Homo sapiens: one gene and its partner. The protein of the gene in region 2 purifies or fractionates together with the protein of the main gene of each other region. This does not show direct contact. Each region holds a gene or a part of one and is shown on either strand. Other genes may lie near its edges. The genes, in order: PSMG2 and A1CF.

Region 1 (3,428 bases), on a different chromosome or scaffold from region 2:
GAGATGGAGATACACCAAGGCAAAAAGTTTCCTGCTTGCCAATAAATGCAAAAATTACTCCTAACACCCTAAAACCAAGAACTATGAGAAAAATGCCATGCCAAAACTTGAAAGCACGAGACTGACAGAGAAGAGAGCTACAGAAATAAAAGTGAGCCGAGTTCTAAGGAAGGAAAGGCACCGAGGAGACTCTGATATATACATTCGGAAGTCTCAGATGATACCAGGCTAACTTTAGTTTCTGTCTCTAAAAACTACAAAGTAGAAACTGTTAGCCTCACTCACCCTAGCCCAGTACTTGGTTCTCAAACACCTTAGGGGCTCTCAATCTTTGTATGGAACCACTATGAGCTCTGATGGCTCAGAAAATTCCAGTTCCTAAATGCGTCTGCTGTGATGGCCTCAGGCAAGGCTCTCGCCTGGAGAAGGCTGGCTCCGAGGCTGTGCTTGCATTTTCAAGGCTCTAACTTGGAAAGCGCAGGGGTATGCTCTTCAGCTTATCGCGCCTCTTATTAGTTTGTCACACAGTGTGGGATAATCATTTCAATATTACCCTCTGGTCTTCTGCTAAAAAGAAAGGCAGAGGATGACTATTATTATTACTTTTTTATTTGGAACTATTTTATTCTGGTTGATACAACTGAGTATTTTAAATATTGTTTCTTCAGGGTAAAATCCGCATTTCCTGAATGTTTGATGCTGAGTAGGTCTAACTTTTATAATACTTTCTGTTTATCACCGCTAACTTTGTGGGCAAGCTTATAGCTAACCAGAAGCTGTTCTTTGCCTGTCCTCATAGTTTCACCCTATACCCAAGAAGACAGACCCAAGGAAACAGACCCCTGGACTCTGATGAGCAGCACCCCTGCCCTCGGATTCTCTGCCCTGTATTTCCAGTTGCCTCGGCCTCCCTGTAGTCTTAACTGATTTCCTCCACTCAGCTCTGCTTGGGTTCCGCTCCCTGTGCTGCAGTCCAGAAAGTATCTCAAGCAGAAAGCCAGGCAACTGTAGACTTAAAATTTGCCTTCTCTTAGGGATGACAGCTATGTGCTGCCTGTAGTCCAATGTCTGGAAAACAGTTGTTTCATAAATTGTCAGGTTCCAGTATTTTTATGGCAGGAGGGCAAGTCTGATATCAGTTACTCTGTCTTGGTCAGAAGCAAAAGTTTAGGAGGATTGATTGGTAAAGTAAGTGCAACAAAGTATAGAAGAGGTGGAGTGCAGTGGGAGTGCAGACGCAACTTCCTTGTCTAGAAGACAGGAAAAGGCAAGATTGCAGACAGGAGGTGAAGGGTAAGTTGACTCTTAGAAAGGAGGTAGGTGTTTGCAAGGGGGACAAGAGAGGAACACGGAACAAAAACACAAGGGAAATGAGAAAATACTGAGATGAGTGAAAATGAAAACACGACATGTCAAATCCCAGGGCATGCAGTGAAAACAGCACTAAGAGGAAAATTTACAGCTGTAAACACATTCAGTAAAAAAGAAAAAAACTTTTAAATTAATAACCTAAGTTTACACCTTGGAAAAGAGAAAAAAAAGCAAATCAAATCCAAAGCTAGCGGAAAAAAATAAAGATTAGGTAAGAGAGAAATAATAGAGAATAATAGAATAATAGAGAATAGAAAAACAATAATCAGCAAAATCAAAACTGGTTCTTCAAAGAAAAACAAAACTGACAAATCTTTAGCTAGCTTGACTAGGAAAAAAAAGAAAAGACTCAAATTATTAAAATAAGAAATGAAAATGGGAACATCAACACCAATTTTACAGAAATAAAGTTGGGAGTTATTATTTATGGGTACAGATTTTTTAATTTAGTATGACGACAAAGTTCTAGAAGTAGACAGTGCTGATGGATGCAGATGCTGTGAATTAATGGCACTTGATTGTACGCTTAAATATAGTTAAAATGTGTGATAAATGTAAATTTTGCACGATGTATATTTTACCACAATTAAAAAAAAGTGCGCGTGTAGAGGTTGCAAAGAATAAGTATTAGAATCCCTAAAAAGTCACACAAAATAAAAGCATTAAATATGGCTTTTGAGAAACCAGTTCTTCTATAACCAAGTTTAAATCTTTCCCCTAAATGCAAGAGCTCTACAATAGTACCAGTTTTGTAAATATATTTTCTTTTTTTCTTTTTGAGACGGAGTCTTGCTGTCTCCCAGGCTGGAGTGCAGTGGCGCGATCTCGGCTCACTGCAAACTCCGCCTCTCGGGTTCACACCATTCTCCTGCCTCGGCCTCCCGAGTAGCTGGGACTACAGGTGCCCACCATCACGCCCAGCTAATTTTTTGTATTTTTAGTAGATACAGGTTTTTACCATATTAGCCAGGATGGTCTCGATCTCCTGGTCTTGATTGATCTGACCTCGTGATCCGCCTGCCTCGGCCTTCCAAAGCGCTAGGATTACAAGTGTGAGCCACCGTGCCCGGCCTAGCAATATATTCTCAAAGTTTCAGTAAGTAATCCAATACATTCTCTGACTTAATTTTGTTTTTTTTGTTGTTGTTTTTTGTTTGAGACAGAGTCTTGCTCTGTCACCCAGGCTAGAGTGCAGTGGCACGATCTCAGCTCACTGCATTAATTTCATTTTTAAGTAAAGTGGGAAACAAATGAACAGGCAAACAAACTCACCTTTCATCATAGAGTGTTTTTGTGATACCTCCTCCCGGAATGCGGATACAAAACTCGGAATCATCTATTTCAGGAATGCACCGGCTTTTTTCCATTTCTTCCCAGTTAAGGCTCTTTATTTTATTTTGAACACTTTTTTGCATGGAAGGTGTAAGTAGGTACCGGAAGGGAGTACTAGAAATAATCATATAGTTAACTTTTTAAAAACTCTAAAGCAAACATCGGTTCTTTAGCTAAAATTCTCTTGGTCTCCATATATTCTGCTGCACAGGCAAAACACAAGTTTCAGCAGACTTAAGTAAAAAATATTGCTCTGATTTGCTACTTACTTACTTACTTAGGAGACAATATAAAAAGACAGAAACACTTAGGCAAGCCCATTGCAAAAATTTCCCACAGCTTTCCTCCCTTCTGCCATGAAGCCTGTAATGTCTTTTGTGAAAGTCCTGGAAATTAGCTCATTTTGAAAGGTAACTCTTGGCTTGTTGGTATTTTTTCATCCTGGTTTTATAGGTGTCTAAGTGATAAAAGTTATGATCTACATCATCTAAAACAGTTACAGTGAGCCAAGACTGTGCCACTGCACTCCAGCCTGGGTGACAGAGTGAGACTCCATCCCCAAAAGAATAAAAAATAAAAAATAAATGATCTAAATGCTACATCTTGGGGCCGGGCGTGGTGGCTCATGCCTGTAATCCCAGCACTTTGGGAGGCCCAGGCAGGCAAATCACCTGAGGTCAGGAGTTCGAGACCAGCCTGGCCAATATCCTGTCTCTACTAAAAAC
Region 2 (3,829 bases):
ACTGGGAATTGCTGCATAGGTCTGGGGGGCATAGAAGACAGGAGCTCCAAGGTAGGTTGTGGTGGGATCATAAACTTGGCCCAAAGAGTAGGTATACTCTCCTTGCAGCATGGTGCCCCTTCCACCTGTGCCTCGGGTATACCTAACATAACTGTCCTTGTCCACTGGTTTTGCTAGGGTGACTTCAATGGGGGAACCATCCAGCACCTGTTGTAGAGAGCAAAGAAATATCAACGCGAGATGATATGAAGATAACCAAGTGTGGCTGAGCCCTAATAACATGACTCCTTCTAAGTGTTAGACTATTTGCTGTAGGTTTATTGATTGTATCTTGTCATTTTATAGGTTTGTTTTGTATGCCAGTTGAACTTTTTCTGAGCCATTTTGTTGGTAAGTTGCATAAGATGCCAACAGGTTTGACAGTGACATATTGGCCAGTGTCCATTGACATATTCATTATAAATTTACAATCTGGTTACAGTCACTGAGACAGAAAGTTATGTAATATTTTTATTAGGTCATATATGTGTTTTAAATTACATATTTATATAATTATATAACTACAAGACAATTTAGGTTTGTTATGGATGGTATAAAATCTCCATTACCTTGCACAATAAGATGAAGGTGAAAGGAAACCAATAAAGAAATCTTATCAATTATTAGCATTTAGCATGGGCAGCCAAATCAGGCCCTTCCAGCTGATAGCCCGCTAACTGTCTTGCTCCTTAGAGCAGCCACACAAGTAAGTTTTCACTGGAGAAGAGAGACATACTGTGGCTCTACCAAAGGAAGAGGAATCTGGGAGGCTGTTGCATTGCCTGCCACAGGTTCTTCCTTGTGAAGCCACCTTTTGATCTGCTGAACAGTTGGGAGCTAATAAACAGGGATGACAGGGGTCAGGAGTAGTTGGGAGTGAGAGTAGTATTGAGGTTCTCAGATCATGCACTGCTTAAAACCTGTCCTTAAGAATTCTGACACAAATTCTGAGACTGCAAACAGCTCCAGATGTCAAAGATAATGGATGTATGTAGATCTACGTGTGCTACTAACTTCTATGTATTGCTTGCCTACACAATAAACAATGATGGCTCTCAAGAAATTCTTGATAGATTGATGTATTTATTATCAAAGGAACAAAGTATTGTCTGAAAGCATTTGTGGCTTTGTTTTTGAATAAGAATGTGAAGATCCTCTGTTTTATATAAAGAACACTTTTATGTAAAGTGTTTCTACAGAAATTCCCATTCACAGCAGCTGAGTGTGCACCCTTACCCTCTGATTTCAACAGTGACTCAGTGGTTCCTGGATTATTGAAGTCTGCTGGACAAAGCTTGTGCTTCATGGTCATCCTGACCATTTTGTTCAGCCTCTTGGTCAATTTGTCCCCAGTATTATGTATTTACCTTACTTTTTAGTAGCAGGAGCCAGTGTCAAATAAGTTAGATGGAATACTCTGAGAGACAGACAGAATCCAGCTGATATTCAACAATCTTATATTGATGTTGATGTAATTAGAAAAAGTAGACCTGGCATACTGAAAATAGGGGAGGAACTTGGGTATAAGATTCTTTATATCTTCAGTCCAGTCTTGAGGAAGATGAGAGACCCAAATAGGTCTCTGCTTATAGGCACTTCCATATCAAGAGATGTTTTGCATGGAATGATTCTTTGCGGCAAATTCAGATATCTTGTAACAAATTTTGTTCTGCCTTCCTTTGTCCCATCCAAAAGCATTTTAAATTCAATATTGTATTTTAGTTATTTGGTTTAGATATTTCCAGAGCTAGGACAATATCTTATTAATCTGTATAGCCCAAGCTTAGTAAAATTTCTTTCACTTCATAGACTTACAAAAAGAATAAATGAATAATCATTCTGAAGCTCAATTCATCATTTTTCTCTCTGAATAGGCTTCCCTTCCTGACTTTCATAACAACCTACCATATTGGAAGCTTATAATGACTTGTCCTTCTTTTTCACCCCATCTCCAATCAGTTCCTGCGTCCTTTGAATTTATCCCTTACTGTTCTGCATATGGCTGTCTCCTACATTCCATTCCTACCTAAGTTCAAGACTTTATTTTGTCCCATTTGGTTGACTATAATAGCTTTATAACTAGTTTCTATGACATGTTTCTCTCACCTGTATTAAAAAGTCAGTTCTTACTAGGCTAATTTTCCTAAATTGTAAATGTGATAATTATCGTAGAAAAAATTTCAAGATCTCACTTCATCTAACAAATTAAATATAAATATCTCTATATATGCTCAAAAACCTTCATAGTTCCTAGGAAAACTTACTTTTGATTTTTCCATACCACATTATAGTCAAATATAATATTAAATATATATTTAACTAAATAATATGTGTAAATAATTACTCTAAAAATATCTAGCTGCAAAAATTGGGAATTTGAATATGTTTCAATTGTAATTATTCCAACGTAATTTTTGGCATTTAATTTGTGATGGCTGTTCCTTCCCAGCAATCATCATGTATACTCAGGAATGTTTCCATATAGAGAAAATCTAACTTACAAATTGTTTTCCAAGTAATAACACTTTTATGATACTAAATGTGATCATCAATGAAGATGAAATAATGCTTTTCTTTATAGACATGTATTTATGCATTAGTTTTTCTTTGCAGTTTTCTTTTTTGTATTTCAGAGTGAATACTTTCTCCACCCCACCCTCCAGTATTCAAACTTTTTGAGTTTGAGTGGGCCCCTGAGGAGCTAATATGCAAGAGGCTCCACAGTGTCTGAAGGGCCTAGGCTAAGAGATCCTCCCTTTGCCATCTGGATCCACTGCCTATGGAATTCACCACCTACCAGCTCCAGCCTGCTCTCTGCTCTGGGAAGCTGTTCTACATGGGGTCCTCTTTAGCCTTCTAGATTGTGATTGCATTTAGCCAATGGGGAACACTGGTAGGAGGTTGGAGAAGAGACAACAGTGAATTCGGGGCATTTATTCTGCTGGACCCGTCTTTGAGAGGTCACCTTGGGCTGACTGTGTCCTTTGACCAAAATCACTGCTTCTTTCTTTTCTCTTTTCTTTCTTTCCTTAATGGTGGGGTCTCACTCTGTTGCCCAGGCTGGAGTGCAAAGGCACAATCATAGATCACTGCAGCCTCAGCCTCCTGGGATCAAGAGATCCTCCCACCTCAGCCCCCGGAGTAGCTGGGACTACTGTAGTAGTCCATGCTACCATGCTCGGCTAATTTTTTGTAGAGATGAGGTCTTGCCATCTTGTCCAGGCTGGTCTTGCACTCCTGGGCTCAAGCAATCCTTCTACCTCAGCCTCCCAAAGTGCTGAGATTACAGGTGCGAGCCACTGCACCCAGCAACTTCTTGCAAAGAGATCTGCTCTACACAATTCTCTCCCCTTTCAGGATTTCTATTAATTCTCCAGCCCCTTGTACCTTTGACTCCAGAATGCTGTGAGCCCCAAATTCTGACACTCTTTTTTGATTTCCCTAGTCCCCACTCGCACTTTTGTAATTAATTCCTTTGCTATTTGTTTTCTTTTGGGACCCTGACCGATGCCAGATCCGATAGGTAACACAGTCCCACGTGCATTATGTTCCAGCCAAGTTACTCCACATTTTCCTGTTCTCCAATCTTGTCTTGCTCTTCTCAAATTCTGTGCCTCTAAGACTTCCTGTCTTTCCATATTTTGATTTTTGAAATTATACCCAATTTTCGTGGCTTCTCTTAAATATTATCTTCTCATATCCATGAAGATGTTTTATTCTTTATAGCCCACTTCTTCCTTTGAACTTGCTCACCACGTTTATCTCTCTTTATGATATTTACTTGCCTATA

What was found.
Region 1: the proteins of A1CF (region 2) and PSMG2 purify together in Homo sapiens (affinity purification with mass spectrometry; 2 studies listed by BioGRID and IntAct, with this or other methods). This does not show direct contact.

The regions. Positions count from the first base shown.
Region 1 is NC_000018.10:12,719,899-12,723,326, reverse strand, and holds part of PSMG2 (proteasome assembly chaperone 2), read right to left. Parts: intron 2,818-3,428; coding exon 2,644-2,817; intron 1-2,643. UniProt on the Homo sapiens protein: Chaperone protein which promotes assembly of the 20S proteasome as part of a heterodimer with PSMG1.
Region 2 is NC_000010.11:50,816,073-50,819,901, forward strand, and holds part of A1CF (APOBEC1 complementation factor), read right to left. Parts: intron 208-3,829; coding exon 1-207. UniProt on the Homo sapiens protein: Essential component of the apolipoprotein B mRNA editing enzyme complex which is responsible for the postranscriptional editing of a CAA codon for Gln to a UAA codon for stop in APOB mRNA.